Regions from separate parts of the Homo sapiens genome. Here all the other regions are linked to region 5. The links come from fine-mapping of genetic effects on gene expression. A gene starts in region 5. Each other region holds a variant in brackets. All regions are shown on one strand. Distances are between the middles of the regions.

Region 1 (5,103 bases), 33 kb after region 5:
TAAAGACATTTCTGAACTTAGGAACAAAGCATTTAGTATTTTACCATTGAGTATGTTGCTAGCTGTAGGTTTTTCGTAGATACCCCTCATCGGATTGAAAATGTTTCCATGAATTCCTCGTTTGCTGGGAATTTTCTTTTCTTTGAGGTTCAGATGTTGATTTTGTGAAATATATTTTATGCATCTATTGATATAATCATGGAATTTTTCTTTTTCTGTCTGTTAATATGGTTAATTTCATTTATTGGTTTTTGAATGTTGAACCAACCTTGCATTCCTGGGAGTAAATGCTATAGATAATGTTGTATATATTTACATATTATTTTCAATGTGATAAGATTTTGTTAATATTTGCATCTGTGTTTATGAGGATGTTAATCTGTATCATCTTTACCTGTTTTTTTTTTGTTGTTTGTTTGTTTTTGAGATGGAGTCTTGGTCTGTTGCCCAGGCTAGAGTGCAGTGGCGTGATCTTGGCTCACTGCAACCTCTGCCTCCTGGGTTCAAGTGATTTCCCTGCCTGAGCCTCCCGAGTAGCTGGCAGTACAGGTGCTTGCCACCATGCCCAGCTAAATTTTGTATTTTTAGTAGAGATGGGGTTTCATCGTGTTGGTCAGGCTGGACTCGAACTCCTGAACTCAAGTGATCCGCCTGCCTCAGCCTCCCAAAGTGCTGGGATTACAGGTGTGAGCCACTGTGCCTGGCCCATTAAGGTGCATATGTATTTAGGATTGTGATATTTTCCTGTTGGACTGATTTTTTTTTTTTTTTTGAGACAGAGTCTCGCTCTGTCTGCCCAGCCTGGAGTGCAGTGGCGTGATCTCAGCTCTCATCTCACTGCAAGCTCCGCCTCCTGGATTGATGCCATTCTCCTGCCTCAGCCTCCCGAGTAGCTGGGACTACAGGTGCCCACCACCACACCCGGCTAATTTTTTTGTATTTTTAGTAGAGACGGGGTTTCACCATGTTAGCCAGGATGGTCTTGATCTCCTGACCTCGTAATCCGCCCGTCTCAGCCTCCCAAAGTGCTGGGATTCCAGGTGTGAGCCACTGCGCCCGGCTGGACTGATCTTTTATCGTTATGTAATGTCCCTTTTTGTCTTTTTTTTTTTTTTTTTTTTTTTTTGAGACAGAGTCTCACTCTGTTGCCCAGGCTGGAGTGCAGTGGCGCAATCTCGGTTCACTGCAAGCTCCACCTCCCGGCTTCACACCATTCTCCTGCCTCAGCCTCCAGAGTAGCTGGGACTACAGGCACCCACCACCATGCCCAGCTCATTTTTTTGTATTTTTTTAGTAGAGACGGGGTTTCACCATGTTAGCCAGGATGGTCTCGATCTCCTGACCTCATGATCCACCCGCCTTGGCCTCCCGAAGTGCTGGGTTTACAGGTGTGAGCTACCACGCCTGGCCCCTTTTTGTCTTTTTTTTAACCGTTGTTGCTTTAAAGTCTGTTTGTGTGATATAGGAATAGCTACTCGGCAAGGCATGATGGCTCATGCCTGTAATCCCAGCACTTTGGGAGGCTGAGACAGGTGGATCACGAGGTCAGGAGATTGAGATCATCTTTGCCACCATTGTGAAACCCCATCTCTACTAAAAATACAAAAATTAGCTTGGTGTGGTGGCATGCCCCTGTAGTCCCAGCTACTCGGGAGGCTGAGGCAGGAGAATTGCTTGAACTCAGGAGGCAGAGGTTGCAGTGAGCCAAGTTAGCGCCACTGCATTCCAGCCTGGTGACAGAGCAAGACTTAGTCTCAGAAAAAAAAACAAAAACAAAAAAACATAGCTACTCTTGGCCAGCTCACATCTATTATCCTAGCACTTTGGGAGGCCAAGGCAGGCAGATCATGAGGTCAGGAGATTGAGACCATCCTGGCTAACATGGTGAAACCCTGTCTCTACTAAAAATACAAAAAATTTAGCTGGGCATGGTGGCGCATGCCTGTAGTCCCAACTACTTGGGAGGCTGAGGCAGGAGAATTGTTTGAACCCAGGAGGCAGAGGTTGCAGTGAGCCGAGATCGTGCCACTGCACTCCAGCCTGGGCAACAGAGCGAGACTCCATCTCAAAGAAAAAAAAAAAAGAATAGCTACTCGTACTTGCTTTTGGTTTCCATTTGCGTGCAGTATCTTTTTCTACCCCTTTACCTTAAGTTTATGTGAGTCCCTATGCATTAGATGAGTCTCTTGAAGACAGCAGATGGTTGGTTGGTGAATTTTATCCATTCTGTGTCTTTTAAGTGGAGCATTCAGGCCATTTACATTCAATGTTGGTATTGAATTATGAGATAGTGTTTTATTCATAGTGATAGTTGTGCTTTTTTAAATTGTGTTATTGTTTTATAAGCCTTTTAAAACATATACTTAAAGGAGGTTCTATTTTTGTTTCAAGATTTAGAACTCCTTTTGACATTTCTTGTAGTGCTGGCTTGCTAGTGGCAAATTCTCTCAGCATTTGTTTGTCTGAAAAAGACTTTATCTCTCCTCATTTATGAAGCATAGTTTTGCTGGATACAAAATTCTTGGCTGGCAATTATTTTGTTTGAGGAGGCTAAAGATAGGACCCCAATCCCTTCTGGCTTATAGGGTTTCTGCTGAGAAATCTGCTGTTAATCTGATAGGATTTCCATTGTAGGTTCCCTGATGCTTTTGCCTCATGGCTCTTAAGATGTTTCCCTTCATCTTGACTTTAGATAACCTGATGACTGTGTGCCTAGGTAATTATCTTTTTGCAATGAATTTTTCAGGTGTTCTTTCAGCTTCTTGTATTTAGATGTTTAGATCTCTGGTGAGAGCAAGGAACTTTTCCTTGATTATTCCCTCCAATAAGCTTTCTAAATGTTTAGATTTCTCTTCTTCCTGAGGAACACCAATTATTCTTAGGTCTGGCTGTTTAACGTAATCCCAAATTTCTTGGAAGCTTTGTTCATTTTTAAAAATTCATATTCGCCGGGCGCAGTGGCTCACGCCTGTAATCCCAGCACTTTGGGAGGCCGAGGCAGGCAGATCACAAGGTCAGGAGATCGAGACCATCCTGGCTAACA[C/T]GGTGAAACCCCATCTCTACTAAAAATACAAAAAATAAGCCAGGTGTGGTGGCGGTCGCCTGTAGTCCCAGCTACTCAGGAGGCTGAGGTAGGAGAATGCTATGAACCCAGGAGACAGAGCTTGCAGTGAGCCGAGATCACGCCACTGCACTCCATCCAGCCTGGGCAACAGAGCGAGACTGTCTCAAAAAAAAAAAATTCTTTTTTATTTGTCTTTGTCTGGTTGAGTTACTTCAAATGCTTTGTCTTCAAGCTCTGAAGTTCTTTCTTCTACTTGTTGGAGATAAATGTTCAGTGCCACAAAGCGAAACCAGCACTCAGGCAAAAATTTTCTCAGCAAGGCAATTTACTTCTGCAGAAGGGTGCTGCTTGTGTCAATCACGATTGCAAGAGCACACTGAACAAAGGAAAGCAGGGGTTTTTATTCCTAATGCAGTCCCTGCCTCTTTGTCATTCCTCCATGGGCTGTGGTTGGACCGCACAATCTAAACTGACCCAATTGGCTATTTGTGAATACTTTCCCAAATAAGGAAGGGAAGGGAAATGTGAGTTACAATGGTGGGATGTGCGGTTTCAAAGGGAGGAACGGGTGAAGAGTGGGTAACCAAGGGAACAGATGTGAGTTATTGATTAGGACTGACAGGAAAGTTGTTTACAGTTACAGTAACTAGGGGCAAGGAGGCATAGAGAACAAGAAAGTTGAGTTTGAGAACAAAGAACAAGGAAGTTAACAGGCTAAACCTTTGAAGAATTTTATTGTATCCTACAATTTCCCCCTTTTAATTTTTATAGTTCTTCCTCTTCAAACCTTTTTAAGATGTCTTGGCTTTGCTGTTTGACTTGATCGTCTGAAAGGAAACGCTTATCTGAATAAGGTGGAGGAGAGCTAAGGGAGATTTTAGTAAGTGCTGTTTCTATAAGCCTTTGTACTAGCCCATGGTTGCATGGTGTGACACAACACCCAACAAGAATGAGTACACCTATTATGACTGCAAGAGAAGTAAGAATTGAGGCTATGATTCCTTTCTATTTACCAAACCACCTGTCTAGCCATCCTGAAGAAGGGTTATTGACTCCAGAATTTTTAGCTAATTCATTAGATAAAATGGTAAGTCCTTGTAAGGCTTTTGTTATGCTCCCATCTGGGGCAGTATGGTTTGGGATGAAGGTACGACACTGAGTTTTAATCATAACACAAACTCTACCTTTTTCAGCTAGTATCATGCCTAGGGCCATTCTGTTTTCCTAAGCCATCTGGCTAGTCAGCCCTAACTCCTCAGCTATTCCTTTGACAGCATCCCTGGTATAATTAATAAACTGCTGTTGGTTATAATAGATGTAATTTATACAGTCTACATTTTTATTAATAGTTACCCATGGAAATATTGATTCAAATCCTGCAGACTATTTGGTCCCGGGCTTTTAATTTATCAGGTACTCCCCATGGGACTCCAGTTGCATCTAAATAAACTTGAGAGTCAAAAAACCTATAAGGGGCTTCTCTTATTTTATGGTGTTGTGGCTTTTCTTTTTCTGGCTGATGAAACGCCAGGGTGAAAGGGATAGCCAAATGGACAAGAGTGCAGGTACCACTCCAGTTACTTGGCAGAGTGTCCAGTAAGGGTCCGCCACAATACCACCATACATCTTCTTGAGGATGACTAAGGGCAGACTGATGGGTAAGCTCTTGGAAAGGCTTAAGCTCACTGCATCCTGTTAAGCTTCCAAGGAACACCAAGTTTTCCCCTTGTCGTGAGAGACAGGACGTGAAATTGACATTGGGAGCCAGAAGCTGGATGGCCCTCTGGGGCTGACCCGCAGGATATTGAACTTTGGGATAGAGCAAAGAGAGAGCTTGGCATGATTGATTGCCCCAAGCTATGGAATCCTGGAAGAGAGCTACCATGCTGCCCATGCCTGGTTGACTGGGGGACCAGCCGAGTGTAAAGGGGTCTATCTGGGTCTCTGGCTGGCCGTGAGCACAAGCATAACAATTGCTTTTGTTTCATGTGCGGACAGAATATTTGGTCCATTCCAACCAGGCATTTGCATCTTGATAT
Region 2 (5,103 bases), 480 kb before region 5:
CCCTCTGCAGCTTGGTTTTCTTCCAAAGAAGCCAGTCACACCTGTGGGCCTCTGCACACAGGCATCCATGCAGGTCCTTCTGTCAGAACCGCCCTTCCCTGGCTTCCCTGCCACTCATCCTCCAAGATTCAGCTTCCTCCTCTGGAAGCCATGCAGTACTCTCTGGCAGAGGGCATCATTTCCACTCTGTGCTCCCCTGCCCCTCTGCAGAGGGGCTCCCTTCTGTTCTATAGCTGCCATCGCACTGGGTTCTCAAGGCTGGCTGCATGGGAGAGTTGGAGGTTTCAGCTCTGACTGCCAGGCGAAGCAGTTGGAGTGGGTGGGAGGTGGGAGGCACAGGGAGCACAGCCCAGAGGCTGTTGCGGGGTCTGGGTGGCACGTGGTTACCTGGACTATGATGGCGTGGTGGAGATGGAGACAGAGGGGACAGGGAGATATTTTGGGGTTTGCTGATGGAATAAACAAGAGGTGGGGAAAAGGAAAAATTCGAGGAAGTTTCTGGCTTGAGGAACTGGAGGCACCCACTTTGACTGGGCTGAGACCAGGGGCTCTGAGGTCCAGTCGATTTCCTGGATAACTTCAGAGTCATCCTCTGTTAAATGGGATGATCACGCCTACTCTAAAGTGTGATTGTGGGGATCAAATGCAATGACATTAACACATGATCATTTTTGACAAATGGTAGCCATCATTGGTTCTGCCCTTTTATTTATTTATTTATTTATTTATTTATTTATTTATTTATTTTTGGATGTGTAGCCTCACTCTGTCACCCAGGCTGGAGTGCAGTGGCCTGATCTTGGCTCACTGCAACCTCCGCCTCCCAGGTTCAAGCGATTCTCCTGCCTCAGCCTCCCGAGTAGCTGGGATTACAGGCACGTGCCAACACACCCAGCTAATTTTTTGTATTTTTAGTAGAGACGGGGTTTCACCATGTTGGCCAGGCTGGTCTTGAACTCCTCATCTCAAGTGATCCATCCGCCTCGGCCTCCCAAAGTGCTGGGATTACAGGCGTAAGCCACTGTGCCGGCTGGTTCAGCCCATTTTAAAGATGAGGAAATCAAGACTCAGCAGGGAGAAATGAGAATGTAAACTGCATAAGGGCAGGTTCTGCTTGCTTTGCCCCAGCCATTTCTCAAGGGCCTGGCACAATCCCTGGCAATAGGAAGTGCTCAAGTGTTTGTCAAATCAGTAAGGGAACTATCTGGCTGCTCTCTCTCTATTTCTTCTGCCCCACAGAAGCAGGACTGGATCTTTGAAGACGCCCAGGAATCTCTCAAACTCCCCACTCCCTCTACCCCCAGCCTCACTCCTACCTTCATCCCCGTCACCCAGCTGCTCAGCGATCTTACAGTAGTCAGAGCCGCCCACCACACCGATCTGCACTCTACTTCGTAGCTTCTGCAGGAAGGCGGCCACCTCAGGGTCAATTTTCTATGGGGGGAGAGGGGAAGCATAGCATTCTGGCTTTCAACATGTCTGGGACCTCCACTTAGCCCTCACTTAGTGCTGAGAACCCAGGAAGCCCACATTCTACCTGGATCTGAAGCAGTACAAAGCTTAGACACCAAAAATTAGACAGGTTGGACACTGTGGCTCAGGTCTGCAATCCCAACACTTTGCGAGGCCAAGGCAGAAAGATCACTTGACCCAGGAGTTTGAGACTAGAGCCTAGGCAGCAAAGGAAGACATTGTCTCTATGAAAAAAAAAATTTTTTTGGAGACGAATTTTTGTTCTGTCATCCAGGCTGGAGTGCAGTGGTGTGATTCTGGCTCACTGAAACCTCTGCCCAGGCTGGAGTGCGATGGCGTGATCTCAGCTCACTGCAACCTCTGCCTCCCGGGTTCAAGCGATTCTTCTGCCTCAGCCTCCCGAGTAGCTGGGATTACAGGCGCCTGCCACCATGCCCAGCTAAGTTTTAAATTTTTAGTAGAGACAGGGTTTCGCCATGTTGGCCAGGCTGGTCTTGAACTCCTGACTTCAGGTGATCCATCCGCCTGGGCCTCCCAAAGTGCTGGGATTATAGGCGTGAGCCACCGTGCCTGGCCGAAAGTTTTTAAAAATTAGCCAGGCATGGGCTGGCACGGTGGTTCACACCAGTAATCCCAGCACTTTGGGAGGCCCAGGAGGGTGGATCACTTGATGTCAGGAGTTCGAGACCAGCCTGGCCAACATGGTGAAACTCTGTTTCTACTAAAAAT[TAA/T]AAAAAAAAAAAAAAAAAAATTGGCCATGCGCGGTGGCTCACGCCTGTAATCCCAGCACTTTGGGAGGCCGAGGCGGGTGGATCACAAGGTCAGGGGATTGAGACCATCCTGGCTAACATGGTGAAACCCTGTCTCTACTAAAAAATACAAAAAAATTAGCCGGGCGTGGTGGCACGCGCCTGTAGTCCCAGCTACTCGGGAGGGCTGAGGCAGGAGAATGGCGTGAACTTGGGAGGCAGAGCTTGCAGTGAGCTGAGATCACGCCACTGCACTCCAGCCTGGGCGACAGAGCGAGACTCCGTCTCAAAAAAAAAAAGAAAAAAAAATTAGCTGGGCGTGGTGGCAAGCGCCTGTAATCCCAGCTACTCAGGAGGCTGAGGCAGGAGAATCCCTTGAACCCGGGAGGTGGAGGTTGCAGTGAACCGAGATCATGCCATCGCACTCCAGCCTGGGGGACAAGAATGAGATTTCATCTCCAAAAAAAAAAAAAAAAAAAGATATTAGCCAGGCATGGTGGCACTTGCCTGTAGTCCCAGCTACCAGCTACTCCAGAAGCTGAGGCGGGAGAATCACTTGAGCCCAGGAGTTCGAGGCTGCAGTGAGCTGTGATAGCGCCACTGCACTCCAGACTGAGTGACAGAGTGAGACCCCGGTCTCTAACAACAACAACAACAAAATAGCATCACAATCAAGTTGATTTTTGAGGAGCCAAAGAACAATAACAAAAATAGCCTCACAAAACAATGCTTAATATTTGCTCTGGGCAAATAGATCCAGATAAAGGCCTGGAGGGAAGCCACACCACAGTAACCACATTAACTTGGGGAGCCGGCCAGGCTCCCCAAGTGCGGTCAGAGTGGACTTTACCCTTCTCTGTTACGTTTCCATTCTTTACCAGGAGAGTGTGCTCATGAAAATGTGTACGATTAAAAATTAACTTTCAAAAGGCACTAAGCACAGAGGCTGGCCCGTAGACAAATTAATAGGCTGTTCTTATTCAGGTTGTTATGTTTGTGGAGCAAAAGGTCAGAGGGAGGAGTCAGAACTGTGCCTAGGCCCTGCCACTTTTGTTCCAGTTCTTTTATTCATTTATTTGTTTGTTTGAGACGGAGTTTCACTCTTGTTGCCCAGGCTGGAGTGCAATGGCACAATCTTGGCTCACTGCAACCTCCACCTCCTGGGTTCAATCGATTCTCCTGCCTCTGCCTCCCCAGTAGCTGGGACTACAGGCACACGACACCACGCCCATCTACTTTTTGTTTTGTTTTGTTTTGAGACTGAGTCTCCCTCTGTCGCCCAGGCTGTAGTGCAATGGCACATTCTCGGCTCACTGCAACTTCTGCCTCTCGGGTTCAAGTGATTCTCCTGCCTCAGCCTCCCGACTAGCTAGGATTACAGGTGCATGCCACCACGCCTGGCTAATTTTTTGTATTTTTAGTAGAGATAGGGTTTCACGATATTGGTCAGGCTGGTCTTAAACTCCTGACATCGTGATCTGTCTGCCTCGGCCTCCCAAAGTGCTGGGATTACAGGCGTGAGCCACTGAACCCAGCCTAATTTTTGTATTTTTAGTAGAGACGGGGTTTCACCATGTTAGCCAGACTGATCTAGAATTCCTGACCTCAGGTGATCTGCCCACCATGGCCTCCCAAAGTGCTGGGATTACAGGCGTGACCCACAAGCAAATGGCCCACCTTTGCTCCAGTCCTGCTATCTTCCTCCCGGATCCACCCCTGCAGGAAGGCCTCCAGGGCCCAAGCCAGGGCAACTTCACCACAGAGGATGGGGAGGGGCATTCGGGACCTAAGAGAGGAGGCTAAGACCTGGGTTCCCATCAGCCACTGCCCAGTAAAGCCCATCCCACTGCTCCCCCACGCTAGGAGACCTGTTGGTTGGTCCTTGAGGCCCCCAGACTGGAGGGTGGGTTACCCACAGGGAGGGCATGAATGAAGCCTGCTTACTGATGCATCCAGCTGGTGAGGGGGCTTTTGGGGACTCACTCACAATGAGACCCAATGGGAGAAAAACTGAGCAGAGGTAAGAGGCTCAACACAGCGAGAGTCTTTAGAAGAAAACTAGACTCTTACCCTCACTATTCCTCAGTGTCCTCACAGCAAACAGGCTAGGCCTGGAGCCTCTCACATCCGGGTGGGTAGAGCTCATAAACGAATTTGAAAAGAAGCCCTCTCTGCTCCACGACTGGGGGTGGAAGGTAAAGTGGGTGATGGGGCTTCAGAAACTAGACCCAGTCCCAGGCCTGCAAAGGTCGGGGTGGGAAGACTCCGAGACGCCCTGTCTCCCACCAGATGATGACTGACGCTTGGCTGTGTGCTTGTGTGCCTGGAACCCCGGTTCAGAAGCCAGCTCCGACCACTGGTGTGTCGTAGGGCTGAACTAGGGTGGGATCCCCAGCTCAGGAGGCGGGGGCGTCCGTGAGCCAGGCCTTAGCGGCGTGTGACAGCCTCCGGGGAGGGAGGGAGCTAGGCCCCTGCTCGCAGCCTCCTCCCTCCAGTACTGGATCCAACCCCAGCACTCCCAAGCAGAACACAGGCAAGGACGCTGCGGGGTCAGTGACGTGAGGGCCAGGTCCCCTCACTCCCGGTGGGTGGCCCCGGATGTCAGGGGGCCGGGTACCGCCGCATCCCACACTCGGTCCCCGGGTGTCCACGGTCACGCTGCTGCAGACCCCACACTCAGCCTCGGGGGTGTCCGCGTGACACTCCCGGTGGGAGCTTCCAATCTTCAGGGTCCTACCTGGCGAGCCGGCGTGAGGGTCCCGTCCACGTCAAACAGGCAGAGGACGCGCTCCTTCCTGCGGGCTGCCTGGGCGGTGACTGCCATGGCTGCAGGTCCGCGCGCGGGGCGGAGTCCCGAAGATGCAACGGCAGAAGCAGCTCA
Region 3 (5,103 bases), 170 kb after region 5:
ATTTTACTGGACGTACCAACACCATAGGTCAACCTGTCAAATGAAGCAAAAAGCAGAACCGAGTTCTATGGGTTTAGTCCCCTCCAGATAAAAGCCAATGAACCTTTTTACAGTTTATGGGGTCCTCTCCATATGGCTGGGGATGCAGGCATGGGAGGAATATTGTCTGGACGATTAATTCCTGTGAAATGAACACAGGAGTTAGGAGGAGCGGAGGTGAGTCAACACACTCTACACTTCCACGGTTGCCTCAAACTCACCACAATTCCAAAATACCAAGAAACAATGTGCTAGTTCTTGCTTTTTTTAAGTGTCCATAAGCTAAAAGTCCTTCTGAAGATTGAGCGTCCCACTTAAAAGCCCAAACCAAAAAATAGTTTGCAGGATTATTTCAAATATATTAAAAACATCAAAATGCTAACTCCAAACTAAGGTGAAATAGTTACATCTAAGTATCCAAGAAGAGCATCAAGAATTAGCAAATTAATTTAGGGTCAGAAAACCTAATAATTAGGGTCAGAAGAACAAAAAGATCATTTCGGTAGCATAAGAACTTTGTGCCGGGTGCAGTGGCTCACGCCTGTAAATCCCAGAACTTTTGGAGGGCAGGGCAGGCGGATCACGAGGTCAGGAGTTCAAGACAAGCCTGGCCAACATGGTGAAACCCCACCTCTACTAAAAAAAATACAAGAATTAGCCAGGCATAGTGGCGCATGCCTGTAGTCCCACATACTCGGGAGGCTGAGGCAGGAGAATTGCTTGAGCCCAGGAGACAGAAGTTGCAGTGAGCCGAGATCGTGCCACTGCACTCCAGTCTGGCCAACAGAATGAGACTCTGTCTCAAAAAAAAAAAAAAAAAGAACTTTGTAAATGTCTGTCGCTCTAGACCTTATTTTAGGGTGCAAGCCATAACTATGATAAGGAGGGTGCCATGTATAAATGTAACAGACACTGAGACAAAAGAAAACTACTCCTGACAGCAGTTTGCTGTCTTTCCCAAGAGATTTGAGGAACAGTAACCATAAAACTTTCCTCCTCCCTTCTCAACTGGGGACTTCTCTGATGTAATATCAGGGAGAAGAACAAGGGAACATTGGGTATCAACTGGTGCACACCATCTCTCTCCTGAAGTGACAGAAAGAACATTGAGTAGTACTATCTTACCTAGAGTCAAACTAAATGACTTGAACAAAGAGACCAAGAAAAACATGTTTAGAAAATCATCTAGAAATAGGATTTTATTTTAGTAAGCGAAGTGAACAAAAAATACAATTTTATTTGTACATACAATTGCTTCCACTATTAAATTTGTTTTCTATTGATTCTTCTGGGTCATCTGTTGGAAAAAGTACTACATTTAGAATTAAGAAATCTAAATACTTCCTAGTCTTGCCACTTGTTCTGTGACTTGGGCAAGTTATTTAACCCATATGTCTCACATTCTTCACCTGCAAAAGTGGAGTTAACCTACCTTGCCACCACACGGGAATGTCCCACAGTAAGTCTGCAAACAGCTAAGTACCATATAAATCAAAATTATCACTGTTAGAATTACCACCCTCTTTCCCTCTCTCAGGTAAAAACTTGAACCAATAATAAAATAAGTAAAAGACACCAGACATGGTGGCTCACGCCTATAATCCCAGCACTTTGGGAGGCCGAGGCAGGCAGATCACTTGAGGTCAGGAGTTCAAGATCAGCCTGGCCAACATGGTGAAACCCTGTCTCTACCAAAAATACAAAAATTAGCTGGGCATGGTGGCAGGCACCTGTAATCCGAGAATCACTTGCTTGTACACCCAGGAAGCAGAGGTTGCAGTGAGCCGAGATCTCACCACTGCACACTCCAGCCTGGGTGACAGTGAGATTCCACTTCAAAAAAACAAACAAAAACAAAAACAAAAAAACAAGTAAAAGACAACAAGGAAAAAAATGGAAAAGAGGTTATCAAACAAACAAAATAAACCCTAAAAAACACAATAAATAACTACTGATTGGTGTAACAGCACTCTGTGACAGGTAATTTTTGTCATTCTCGAGTTAGGAAAGATCCCACACCCTGGGATCTACAGTCCATTCATAGAAATCACAGCAGGGTTAAATCCTCATCAATCCTCTAATTCACAATGAAGAATGCCGACGGAGCGCATTCTTAATCTATATGGCAAGAACTACAAGCCACAGGACCAATCCCCACCCTCCCCACAGAGGGACAGTGGCCTGACAGTTGGAGCTCTACTTGGAGGCAGATGGCCTCTAAAGTGCAAGAGTTTTCCCTTCTTCCCTGACCACTGGCATGCAATTAGCAAACACCCTAACCCCAGTCATTCTGAAATAAGCCAATGGAGAGTCACCTGCAATCCTAAATTTTGAAAATAAAAAAGTCAAAGAGACACAAACATTCTATGAAAAATCAGCCACAAGCATAACATTGCAGGTAT[T/G]GTGGGTCTGGTTCCAGACCGTGGCAATAAAGCGAGTCACACAAATTTTCTGGTTTTCCAGCACATATTAACTTTTATATGTGTACGCTATACTTCAGTCTACTAAGTGTGAAATGGTATTATGTCTAAAAGACAATGTTCATACCTTAATTTAAAAAATACTTTATCGTTAAAAAATGCTAACAATCATCTGAGCCTTCAGGGAGTCCTAATCTTTTTGCTGACGGAGGGTCTTGCCTCCATGTTGATGGCTGCTGACTAATTAGGGTGGTGGTTGCTGAAGGCTGAGGTGGCTGTGGCAAATTTCTTCAAATAACACACCCATGAAGTCTGACGCATCGACTGGCTCTTCCTTTTCTAAGAGATTTTTCTATAGCATGCCAAACTGTTTGATAGCATTTTACCCACAGTGGAACTTCTTTCAAAACTGCAGTCAGTTCTCTTCAACCCCGCCACTGCTTAATCAACTACGTTTATGTAATATTCTAAATCTTTCATTGGCATTTCAACAATGTTCACAGCATCTTCATCAGGAGTAGATTCCATCTCAATAAATCACTTTCTTTGCTCATCCATAAGCAGCAACTCCTCATCTGTTCAAGTTTTATCATGAGATTACAGCAATCCAGTCACATCTCCAGGCTCCACTTTTAATTCGAGTTCTCTTGCTATTTCTACCACATCTGCAGTTCCTGCCTCCACTGAAGTCCTGAACCCCTCAAAGTCATCCATGAGGGCTGGAATCATCTTCCAAACTCCTGTTCATGTACTGACCTCCTCCCATGAATCACAAATGTTCTTAATGGCATTTAGAATGGTAAATCCTTTCCGAAAGGTTTTCAATTCACTCTGCCCAGACCCACTAGAGGAATTATTATGTATAGCAGCTAGAGCCTTATGAAACATATTTCTTAAATAAGACTTGAAAATCAAAATGATTCCTTGATCCAGGGGCTGCAGAATAGATGTTGTGTTAGCAAGCATGAAAACAACATTTATCTCCTTATACATTTCCATCAGAGCTCTTAGGTGACCAGGTATACTGTCAAGAAGTAATATTCTGAAAGAAATCTTTTGAGTAGTAGGTCTCAACAGTGGCCTTAAAATATTCATTAAACCATTCTGTAAACAGATGTGCTGTCATCTAGGTTTTGTTGATCCACTGACAGAGCACAGGCAGAGTAGATTTAGCATAAATTTATGGGCCCTAGAATTATTAGAATGGTAAATGAGCACTGGCATCAACCTAAATTCACCAGCTACACCAGCTCCTAATAACAGTCAGCCTGTCTTTTGAAGCCAGGCACTGACTTCTCCTAATTATGGAAGTCCTAGATGGCATCTTTTCTGACATAAGGCTACACTGAATATCTGTTCAATATAGCCACCTTCATCAGTGATCTTGGCTACATCTTCTAGATAACTTGCTGCAGCTTCTACATTAGCACTTGCTTCAACTTGCATTTTAATGTTACAGAGATGGTTTCAAGAACTTTAGGAACCAATCTGTGCTAGCTTCAAACTTCACTTCTGCAGCTTCTTACTTTTTTCAGCCTTCACAGAAGTGAAAAGAGAAAGTCTTGCTCTGGGATTAGGCTCTGGCTTAAGGGAATGTTGCGGCTGGTTGATTTTCCATCTGAGTCACTAAAACTTTTCCATATCAGCAATAAGCTGTTTCGTTTTCTTCTCATTCATGTGTTCACTGGAGTTGTACTTTTAACTTTCTTCAAGAACCTTTTCTTGCATTCATAACTTGGCCACGTTTGGTGCAATAGGCCTAGTATTCAGCCTATCTTGGCTTTTGACATGCCTTCCTCACTAAACCATCATTTCTAGCTTCTGATTTAAAAGTGAGAGATGTGCAATTCTTCCTGTCACTTGAACATTTAATGGTCATGATCAGGTTATTAACTGACCTAACTTCAATACTGTTGTGTCTGAGGTAACAGAGAGACCTGAGGAGGTGGTGAGATGGGGGGACACCCAGTTGGCAGCAGTCTGAACACACATCTATACACAACATGTATATATTAAGTTCGCCGTCTTATATGGGAGTGCTTTGTGGCGCTCCAAAACAATTACAAAAGTAACATCAGGCCGGGCGCGGTGGCTCACGCCTGTAATCCCAGCACTTTGGGAGGCCGAGGTGGGTGGATCATGAGGTCAGGAGATTGAGACCAACCTGGCTAACACGGTGAAACCCTGTCTCTACTAAAAATACAAAAAAATTAGCCAGGTGTGATGGCGGGCACCTGTAGTCCCAGCTACTCGGGAGGCTGACGCAGGAGAATGGCGTGAACGCGGCAGGCAGAGCTTGCAGTGAGCCGAAATCGCACCACTGCACTCCAGCCTGGGCGACAGAGCGAGACTCCATCTCAAAAAAGAAAAAAAAAAGTAACATCGATGATCACTGATCACAGATCTTCATGACAGATAACAATTTTAAAAGTTTAAGGCTGGGCGCGGTGGCTCATGCCTGTAATCCCAGCACTTTGGGAGGCCGAAGCGGGTGGATCATCTGAGAACAGGAGTTCGAGACCAGCCTAGCCAATACGGAGAAACCCCGTCTCTACTAAAAATACAAAATTAGCAGGGCGTGATGGCGCATGCCTGTAATCCCAGCTACTCGGGAGGCTAAGGCAGGAGAATCACTTGAACCCCG
Region 4 (5,103 bases), 350 kb before region 5:
ACCGTGTTAGCCAGGACAGTCTCCATCTCCTGACCTCGTGATTCGCCTGCCTTGGCCTCCCAAAGTGCTGGGATTACAGGTATGAGTCACCGTGCCCAGCCCGTGCCTGGCTAATTAAAAAATTTTTTTTTGTAGAGTCTGGGTCTCATTATATTGCCCAGGCTGGTCTTGAACTGCTGGGCTCAAGAGATCCACGTGCCTTGGACTTCCGAAGTGCTGGGATTACAGGCATGAACCACCACACCCAGCCAGAATTCCCGTTTTTAAATGCTACCCCTTTTTTTTTTTTTTTTTTTTGAGATGGAGTCTCGCTCTTTCACCATGCTGGAGTGCAGTCGCACGATCTCAGCTCACTGCAACCTCTGCCTCCCGGGTTCAAGTGATTCTCCTGCCACAGCCTCCCGAGTAGCTGGGACTACAGGCGCGTGCTACCATGCCCGACTAATTTTTGTATTTTTAGTAGAGACGGGGTTTCACCGTGTTGGCCAGGATGGTGTCAATCTCTTGACCTCGTGATCTGCCTGCCTCGGCCTCCCAAAGTGTTGGGATTACAGGCGTGAGCCACCGCGGCCAGCCTCTTTTTTTTTTTTTTTAAATAATAAAAAAAATTAACCCTATGCATGTTTGTCAGACCCGAGGGCCTCTTTTATCCTGGTCAACGGGAGTGCTAACCTTCTTTCAGACAACACTTAAAGGTCACCTCTTCTCTGGAGCCTTTCCTTCCCACCCTCTCCCCTCAGCCAGGGATGTAGTCACATCCTTTGGACCCTTGAAGCACCAAGGGTCTTATATTCTGTCTTATGTCATCTTATTCACTTACTTTACAACCCAAGATCCTCATAAGTTCTTATTTTATTTAATTTACTTATTTTTAAAGATGGGACCTGTTCTATTGCCCAGGCTGAAGTACAGTAGCATGTTCATAGCTCACTGCAGCCTCGAACTCCTGGCCTCAAGTGATCCTCTCACCTTGATCTCCCAAGTAGCTGGTATTACAGGTGCACGCCACCTTGCCAGCATTTTAATTTTTTTTTTTTTTTTTTTTTGTAGAGATGGGGTCCCACTATGCTCATAAGCTGTTTATGGTCTAATCCTTATTAACCTCTCAAGCCTCATCTCTCACTTCTCTATCTGTCCCCACCCTAACTCAGCCTTACTGAACCAAATCCATCTCCAGGAACACACCATACTCTCCTGCCTTTATATATTCCTCTGCCCAGAAGTTGGCTCACATCCAACTTCTCATCCTTCAAGATTTGGTTCAAATATCTTCTTATAGAAGCCTTCCCTGGGCCCCCAGGCTAGATTAGATGATTCATTTGATTTCCTGCGGTCCTCTGGGCTTTTTTCCACATTATTTAATTTTAATATTTAATATTCTGACATGCATTTCTTTACTTGTTTGTTAAAGTATGTATTATTTGGAACACTTTGGTGACTTACCATGAATCCCAGCATAAGTACCAGAATCCTTAACATAGCTTATGTGGTCTTTTGTGACTACTTCTCAAATGTAATTTCTGGACTTTTTTTTCCCCCAGCCATTCTGGCTTTCTTTCACTTTCTAGAATGTTGTTCTCTGTATCTGGAATACTTCTCCCCACTTCACCTACTTTTACGTACTTATTTTTCAGATTCAGCTTAAATGGTACTTGCTGATGGAAGGCTTTACTGATCCCCCACACTGGGTTAAATCCTCATATACATTTTCATGTATTTGGGTATTTCTCATTTACATCATTTATCACAATTATAAGGGTCATTTGTCTGACTTGGTTTTTTTTTTTTGAGATGGAGTTTCACTCTGTCACCCAGGGTGGAGTACAGTGACGCCATCTCAGTTCACTGCAACCTGTGTCTGCTGGGTTCAAGCGATTCTCCTGCCTCAACCTCCTGAGTAGTTGGGACTACAGGCACATGCCTCCATGCCAGGCTACTTTTTGTATTTTTTTACTAGAGAGGGGGTTTCACCATGTTGGCCAGGCTGGTCTTGAACTCCTGACCTCAAGTGATACACCCACCTTGGCCTCCCAAAGTGCTGGGATTACAGGTGTGAGCCACCACGCCTGGTCTTGTCTTACTTGTTTTTGTGTTTGTTTCTCCTACAGGAGTGTATGCTCCCTTTGTTAGTCAAAAAATATTTTTTGAGTTCCTGCTATGTGTCAGGAACTGTGCCAGGTGATGGATGATGTTATGTTGAAAAAACTCACATTATTCCTGCCCTCATGAAACTTATAGTTGAGTGAGGCAGTCGGGCTATGTTTATCTTGCTTACTCTTGAATCCCTAGACCCTTAGGCCTAGCACTTAGTGGGCTCTCACTAGATCTGTGTGGAAGAGAGTCGGGTGCAAAAAGCAAATTGGTGCTTAAGGATTCTAACCATTCTTCATATTTGTAGAGGGATGAAGAAGTTTCTCTGGGGATGTCTGAGGGGCTATCTTGGGAGTACTCTGGTGCCTGTGTTCCTCTTGCCTTACTTCCCAATCCCTTTGTTTCCTAGGTTTGCTGAGGCAGCTGTTGAAGTATGATCTCTTTGTGTCCATGATCATGAACCAGGATGGACTGGGAGAAAGTGCTAAGAATATCGAAGGGTCATCAGGAAATACCTCACTGCCTTTGGTGCTCAAAAAGGTAGTTGTCTTGTGATTCCTGGTCTCTAGGTTCAATAACAAGGGGACCCAAGTGCTTCTTGGGCCTTGTCTTCATCTACCACTCCTATCTCAGATTTCCAAGTGTTTTCTTACTGGGCAAAATAATATACTGGCTGGGGGCGGTGGCTCATGTCTGTAGTCCCAGCACTTTCGGAGGCCTAGGTTGGTGGATTGCTTGAGCCCAGGAGTGCAAGACCAGCTTGGGCAATATGGCAAAACCCTGTCTCTATAAAAAATACAAAAAAGTTGGGCGTGGTGGCTCACGCCTGTAATCCCAGCGTTTTGGGAGGCCAAGGCT[G/A]GCGGATCATGAGGTCAAGAGATTGAGACCATCCTGGCCAGCACAGTGAAACCCCATCTCTACTAAAAATACAAACATTAGCTGGGCGTGGTGGCACACACCTGTAGTCCCAGCTACTCGGGATGCTGAGGCAGGAGAATGCCTTGAATCTGGGAGGCGGAGGTTGCAGTGAGCCAAGACCGCGCCACTGCACTCCAGCCTGGTGACAGAACGAGACTCTGTCTCAAAAAAAAAAAAAAAAAAATTAGCTGGGCGTGGGCGTGGTGGTATGCACCTGTAATCCCAGCTACTCAGGAGGCTGAGGTGGGAGGATTGCTCGAACCCAGGAGGCGGAGGTTGCATTGAGCCATGATCATGCCACTACACTCCAGCCTGGGTGATAGAAAGTAGATTTCCTTTCATTTGTAAATTCTTTTTTTTTTTTTTTAAGTGCCGAGGTCTTGCTCTCTCCACTCAGGCTGGAATGTAGTGGCACAATCACGGCTCACTGCAGCCTCAACCTCCTGGGCTCAAGCGATCCTCTTGTCTCAGCTTCCTGAGTAGCTGAGACTACAGGTGTTCACCATGAGGCATGGCTAATTTTTAACTTTTCGTAGAGACAGGGATCTTTCTATGTTGCTTGGGCTGGTCTCAACTCCTGGGCTCAAGTGATTCTCCCACCTTGGCCTCCAAAGTGCTGGGATTACAGGTGTGAGCCACTGCACCTAGCCTCAGTTGTAAATTATTATTATTTTTTTTTTGAGATGTAGTCTCGCTGTTGCCCAGGCTGGTGTGCAGTGGCGTGATCTTGGCTCACTACAACCTCCGCCCCCCAGGCTCAAGCAATTCTCCTGCCTCAGCCTCCTGAGTAGTTGGGATTACAGGCGCCAAGCCACCATGCCCGGCTAATTTTTTGCATTTTTAGAAGAGACGGGGCTTCACCATGCTGGCCAGGCTGGTCTCAAACTGCTGACCTTGTGATCCGCCTGCCTCGGCCTCCCAAAATGCTGGGATTACAGGCATGAGCCCCCAGGCCCAGCCGTAAATTCTTACCTCTGCACTTCCCCTTCACATTTGGGCTGCCTGAAAATGGAGAATACTTACAGCAATAGAAACAAAGTCACCTCAGTTGCTTTAGGGATCAGATTCTGAGCTTGGTACTGAGAACCTTCTTTATCTGGATATCCTTCAGCCTCACTTTCCTGTCTCTTCCACCCCACAACCCAGTGCTCCAGCCACATGCAGTCTTTCCCTGGTCCTGCATATGCTAGGTCATCCTGTCTCACTGCCTGTGCAGTTGCTCTTCCTCTGCCTATAGGGCATTTCTCCTCTCTTTATCTGCTGATATGAGTCAGCCTTCAAGCCTATAGGGCTCCCCTGTCACCCTGGCTCCTTTAGGCGGAATGTGACCCACTGTCACCGTGCTTACCTCATACCATATTGTGGTTGACTGGCTGGGAGCTCTTTCAGGGCAAAACCTGAGTCTGGCATCTTTCCCCAGTGCTCGGCACGGGGGCTGGCAGAGCTGCAAACCCTGATGTGATAGCAGGGGTTGATTGCCCAAACTCTGGGGCTCTTTCTGCAGCAAGGAAGAGGAGGAGGAGCTCTGGTTAGAAGTGAGAAGGGAGGCCGGGTGCAGTGGCTCATGCCTGTAATCCCAGCACTTTGGGAGACCGGGACGGGTGGATCACGAGGTCAGGAGTTCGAGACCAGCCTGGTCAACATGGTGAAACTCTATCTCTACTAAAAATACAAAAATTAGCCAGGCGTGGTGGCACACACCTGTAATCCCAGCTATTTGGGAGGCTGAGGCAGGAGAATATAGCAAGAAAAGTTTGTCCTGAGACTACAGCAAGAAAAGAAAAGAACTGACTTCTAAAGAAAATAGTTTAGTCCATTTCAGAGTTTAAATGTCGGTCATCAAGTGTAATGAGCTAGGATCAGGTTTCTGACTTAGGAATCATACACGTATTCCATAAGTTTTAGTGTAGTTTTAAGCTTAAAACTTAACTTAAAAGCAGTAACTTAAAAGCAGTTACTGTTGCCATTTTCAAACATATGTACTTAAACAACAACAGGGAAACTAAAAATGTGTTATCAAATCACAAAACTGAAGTGTAATGAAATTTAACCAATTAAACTTCAAAAAAGAATATTTATTTTAAACCAAGAATC
Region 5 (5,101 bases):
CTTTTCTAGTGGACTCTCCACTTCCTGCCCCCGAATCTGCAGGGCCCTGGGCAAGGCTCATCAGGTGAGTGTGGACCTTACTCACCTTATGCAGTTCTTTGGGTCCTCATCACAGTTAATGTTGCAGCGGAAGCGTTCCCAGGCCAGCCAGCCCATGGGTGGTGTCTGCAGGAGCCCATTGTCCAGCATCAGCACCTGGGCCACATGTCCCAGCAAGAGCACTAGGGGGCAAGGGAGGAGGGGATGGTGACTATCAGTTGCCCCCACAGCTCCAGCCCTCATCCCACCCCATCTGTATGTTGCTCAGCCCTACAGAGGCTGCCTGCCTATATATAAGGGAAACTGGACTCCTGGGTTTAGGGTAGAATTGGCTCTTCCTGCAATGGCTGGCTCTTGCAAAGCAGTAAGTGGGAGGATGGTGCCTGGGCCAGGCAGTGGCTTGAGGTCTGGCCGTCACCACAGCATTGCTGGAATTAGCAAAACTAACACCTTATGTCCTAACCTTCCTATAACCCCCATCAGCTCCTCCCATCCCATATATAGAACTTAACAGTACAGATGCTCCTAGGCCTACCACGGAACTACGTTCTCATAAGCCCAGTGTAAGTTGAAAATATCACATCAGCCAGATGCAGTGGCTCATGCCTGTAATCCCAACGCTCTGGAAGGCCGAGGCGAGTGGATCACTTGAGGTCAGGCCAACATGGTGAAACCTTGTCTCTACTAAAAATTCAAAAACTTAGCCAGGCGTGGTGGCATGCGCTGTACTCGGGAGGCTGAGGCAAGAGGATCACTTGAACCCCAGAGGCGGAGGCTGCAGTGAGCTGAGATCGTGCCACTGAACTCTAGCCTGGGCTGTGACAGTGCGAGACCCCATCCCAAAATAATAAAAAAGAAAATATTATGTCAAAAATGTACTTAATACACCTAACCTGGCAAACATCATAGCTGAGCCTAGCCTACCTTAAAAATGTGGACAGGCCAGGCACGGTGGCTCACTCCTGTAATTCCAGCACTTTGGGAGGCCGAGGTGGGCGGATCACCGTAAGTCAGGGGTTCAAGACCAGCTTGGGCAATATGGTGAAACCCTGTCTCTACTAAAACTACAAAAAAATACCGGGGTGAGGTGGTGAGTGCCTGTAATCCCAGCTACTTAGGAGGCTGAGCAGGAGACTTGCTTGAACCTGGGAGATGGAGGTTGCAGTGAGCCGAGATCGCGCCACTCTACTCCACTCCAGCCTGGGTGACAGAGTGAGACTCCGTCTCAAAAAAAAAAAAAAAAAAAAAGTGCGACAACGCACATTAGCCTACAGCTGGCCAAAATCATCTAACACAAAGCCTATTTTATAATAAATTGTTGAATATTTCATGCAATTTACTGAATACTGAAACACAGGTTGTATACGTACTGTGGTTTCTACTGAATGTGCGTCGCTTTCACACCACAGTAAAGTTGAAAAATCGTTAAGTCGGGACCATTGGCCAGACTCCAGGTCTCCTGAGCCCCAGTCCAGAGCTCTTTGCTCTCTACCACAGACCCTCAAGAGGCCTCAGAGAGGCTTAAGAAGTAAGCCAGCCAGGATGGGCACCCAATCAGCTCACCTAAGTGAGACCTTTCCCCCTCGGGCCTCAGTTTCCTTATCTGTAATATGGAGTTACTGTAGGGACTGTACAGGCGGTTCTCCGCACATGCTGATATCCATCAGTTAGGGCCTCTGTGCTTGAGGGAGAGGAAGTGAGAAAGGAAGGGCCCCTTTGAAGGAGAAATGATTCCCGTATGGGGAAGCATCTCCTCCCTTCCTGCCCAGCTCTAAGTAAAAGAGAGAGGAACCTGTCTCTCCACATACCCACATTAGGGAAGAAGGGCCAAAGCACTCCTTGTAGCACTCACCCCTACCCTTCCAAGCCACCCCAGCCGGTGTAGGTACCTGTCTTCAGCAGCATCGCTCTGGACTCAGCTTCCGAGGACCTGACCAGATCTGGTCTGCGTGTATCAGCTGTATGTGTTGGGCTCTGGAAGCTAAGAAACGTCTGAAAAGCACTGGGGTCACGGCTGCCTGGCTAGCTCGGCCGCCCTCAACCTTAGGCGTGGATCGTACACTCGGTCCCCAAGTTGCCCGCCCCATCCCCAGCCATCACTTCCCGGAGCTTCAGTTCTTCCTTCAGAAATACGAAACAACGTGTCTTGGATGTCAGACCTCACACCCTCTGCAGTGCTGGGAGTCCCGAGGGCCTACGGGCCGCCTTCGGCCCCGCCCGGGCTCAGAAAAAGGCAGCCACTGGCTTAAGGTCACCAAGAAAGAGCGGAGGGGCGGGGCTGCGGCCAGGCTCCGGACTTCCAGCCGGGTCCGGGTTCCCGCCCTGGGCTCCCCAAAACCGCAGAGCCCCCTCCCACCGCACTTATCCTACCGAAGCGTTCAGACCTGCCGCCGCTTCTGACTCGAATCCGGTAACCTGATAAGTCCGAAGCGTTCCAGTGAGGGCGGGGCCTCACGAAGGCAACCCTTCGCGCAACCTATCAGAATCCCCCCTAGCAACGCTGTGCCCCGCCCATATGGGTCCGGCCTCCCAGCCTCCCTAAGCCCTTCCCCACTGGGCTCCCGCCCTGCGTGCTAGCGAGGCAGGCATTGGCAGAACGGACTCGGGGCTGTCCTTCGTGGCCCGGACCCCGCGAGGCCTGTCCTTCCACCTCTGTGGGGACCAAGAGGGCAAGGATCGTGCCAGGCTCACCGTGGGCGCTCAGTAAGCGGCCGTGCAGAGGACGGTTGAGGGCTTTGTGCAGAGGAAATGAGAGACTGCTCTGAAGCAAGGCCCGCCTAGTGAGCTGCTAGGAAAATGGAAGTCTGGGATTAATCGTCTCTACAAGGAGGGTGCGTGGGAGGCACCAAAGCAGGCGGTCACAGCTCCCGCAAAGGCAGCCGGCTCTCCTTCCCCGCCTGACGCTCAGGGACTACTCGCACAGACTGGGCTACTTCCTTCTTCATTCATTCATCAAGTATTTATTGAGAAACTGCTAAGTGCCAAATGCTTTGTTCTGGGCATTGTAGGGGCAGAAAGGTGTGATATTTTCCCTTACTCATCCCAAAGGTCACAGCGGACACTCCTACAAATAAAATATAGGTTAGCAAGAGAAAAGCATAATAGATTGATTTACTCAATGTTTTATGTGACTTGAGAGCCTTCAGGAATGAAGACACAAATACTCAGGGAAATCTTTATTTTTATGTCTCGGTTTGATGAAGAATGGACAGCCCTGGCCGGGTCTGGTGGCTCATGCCTGTAATCCCAGCACTTTGGAAGGCTGAGGCAGGGGGATCGCTTGAGGCCAGACATTTAAGGACAGTCTGGGCAACATAGTGAGACCCTGTCTCTACAAAAAATTAAAAAGCCAGGCAGGTGCCTGTGGTCCCAGCTACTCGGGAGGCTGAGGTGGGAGGATTGCTTGAGTCCAGGAGGTCGAGGTTGCAGTGAGCTGTGATTGTGTCACTGTACTCCAGCCCGGGCAACAGAAAAAAAAAAAAAGGAATAAGGAATGGACAACTGTGTATAAACGCGATTAGACAAAAGGGAATGATTTAATGTTAATAGCTGAGTGTGGAAACCCAGCAATGTCTGTTCAGATTCGGATTCTTCTTGTTCTCTCTGTGTGGCATTCCCTCCTGCTGGGAGGAGGGCAGGACCCCTTCTGGAATGAGAGTCTTATGACCTAGTATCAGGCAAGGTAGATCAGAGAATTCCTTTATGGCCAGGCCCGACACAGAAAGGTGGGGGATGTTTCCAGTAATATTTGTAGTTACTTTTTTTTCTTTTTTTTTTTCTTTTGAGACAGAGTCTCCCTCTGTCACCAGGCTGGAGTGCAGTGGCGCGATCTCTGCTCACTGCAACCTCCGCCGCCCAGGTTCAAGCGATTCTCCTGCCTCAGCCTCCCAAGTAGTTGGGACTACAGGCGCACGCCACCATGCCCAGCTAATTTTTGTATTTTTAGTAGAGATGGGGTTTCACCATGTTGGCCAGGATGGTCTTGATCTCTTGACCTCGTGATCCGCCCACCTCAGCCTCCCAAAGTGCTGGGATTACAGGCATGAGCCACTGTGCCCAGCCAATATTTGTAGTTGCTATAACTCACCTTAGGGAGGAGGATTTTTAGTTTCTATGGCCTGCCTTGCAGGAGAAAAACAGGAGAAAGAAGGGGGGCAGGAGAAGGTCAGAGAGATACTTTGCTTCTGAGGCTCTTCCAGTGTCCTTTGGTTCAAAGTACTCAGCATGCCCAAGTGCCATATTTTTAGGCATCGCTTTCTGAGCCCCAACAGCACCTTCACTCAGATGGCCACTGGGTGTCTCAAACATAACCCAGACCAAGCACCGGCCACTTTCCACATCTCAGATAATGACAACTCTCCTAGGTGCTCAAGCCAAAACTGTGCAGTCCTGCCTGCTCTTTCCCTCACTCCCCACATCCAACTCCTCAGCAAATCCTGTGTTCTCTACCTTCAACAGCCATTCTAATTCTGGCTGCCTCTCCCTCCCCGCTCTTGCCGCGTTTGTGACATCTCGCCTGGATAGTGGCAGCAGGCTCCTCACTGGTCTCCAGCCTCCACTGACATTGATTCTCACCACAGAAGCCAGAGTATGCCTTGAAATCGCTCAGGTCCCTCCTCACAGCCCTGTCTAGAGTAACAGCCCTCCCAGATTTACAGAGCCCCATCCCACCCCTTCTACCCCCACCTCCTACTGTCTGCCCCTCCCCAGGCCTCCCAGCCTCACTGGCCTTCTTGCAGGTCCTCAAGCACAACAGGCCTGAGGGCCACTGCGCTGACTGTTCCCTCTGCCTGGAATTGGCATGGCTGGCTCCCTCATTTCCTTCAAGTATTTGTCCAATGTTACTTTCTCAGTGAGGCCTACCCTGACCACTCTATTTGCAATTGCAACCTCCCTACTCCCACAATTTCCCATCTCCCTTACCCTCCTCTGTTTTTCCATGCCACTTATTATCTTCTAACACATTTATTATGGTGTACAGTATTAACTGAATAAAATTTAGTAGGGGAGACAGGCAATAAACAAGAAAATAAAAGCATGAGCATAGGAAAGTTTACTCTAG

Evidence for each region.
Region 1: its variant is fine-mapped to the expression of NAGA in whole blood (TOPMed, PIP above 0.99).
Region 2: its variant is fine-mapped to the expression of NAGA in whole blood (INTERVAL, PIP 0.93).
Region 3: its variant is fine-mapped to the expression of NAGA in whole blood (INTERVAL, PIP above 0.99).
Region 4: its variant is fine-mapped to the expression of NAGA in whole blood (INTERVAL, PIP 0.98).

The regions. Positions count from the first base shown.
Region 1 is chr22:42,101,143-42,106,245 of GRCh38, forward strand. All of the region lies in intron 3 of NDUFA6-DT (NDUFA6 divergent transcript), which reads left to right. Among named protein-coding and RNA genes, the nearest start is that of NDUFA6-DT, 13 kb to the left of the region's middle. The variant C/T (reference allele first, on the strand shown) is at 3,044.
Region 2 is chr22:41,584,760-41,589,862 of GRCh38, forward strand. It overlaps PMM1 (phosphomannomutase 1), which reads right to left and starts at 5,081. Exons shown (of 8, transcript NM_002676.3): 1 at 4,960-5,081; 2 at 1,317-1,434. The coding sequence starts at 5,046. RefSeq lists an enhancer at 4,206-4,885. The variant TAA/T (reference allele first, on the strand shown) is at 2,203.
Region 3 is chr22:42,234,300-42,239,402 of GRCh38, forward strand. The region is part of intron 1 of TCF20 (transcription factor 20); the gene reads right to left. Among named protein-coding and RNA genes, the nearest start is that of TCF20, 34 kb to the right of the region's middle. The variant T/G (reference allele first, on the strand shown) is at 2,442.
Region 4 is chr22:41,721,443-41,726,545 of GRCh38, forward strand. It overlaps MEI1 (meiotic double-stranded break formation protein 1), which reads left to right. Exons shown (of 31, transcript NM_152513.4): 7 at 2,501-2,631. It also overlaps the pseudogene RNU6ATAC22P. Among named protein-coding and RNA genes, the nearest start is that of MEI1, 24 kb to the left of the region's middle. The variant G/A (reference allele first, on the strand shown) is at 2,950.
Region 5 is chr22:42,068,354-42,073,454 of GRCh38, forward strand. It overlaps NAGA (alpha-N-acetylgalactosaminidase), which reads right to left and starts at 2,459. Exons shown (of 9, transcript NM_000262.3): 1 at 1,929-2,459; 2 at 86-221. The coding sequence starts at 1,944. RefSeq lists enhancers at 1-364, 2,720-2,769 and a silencer at 2,240-2,539.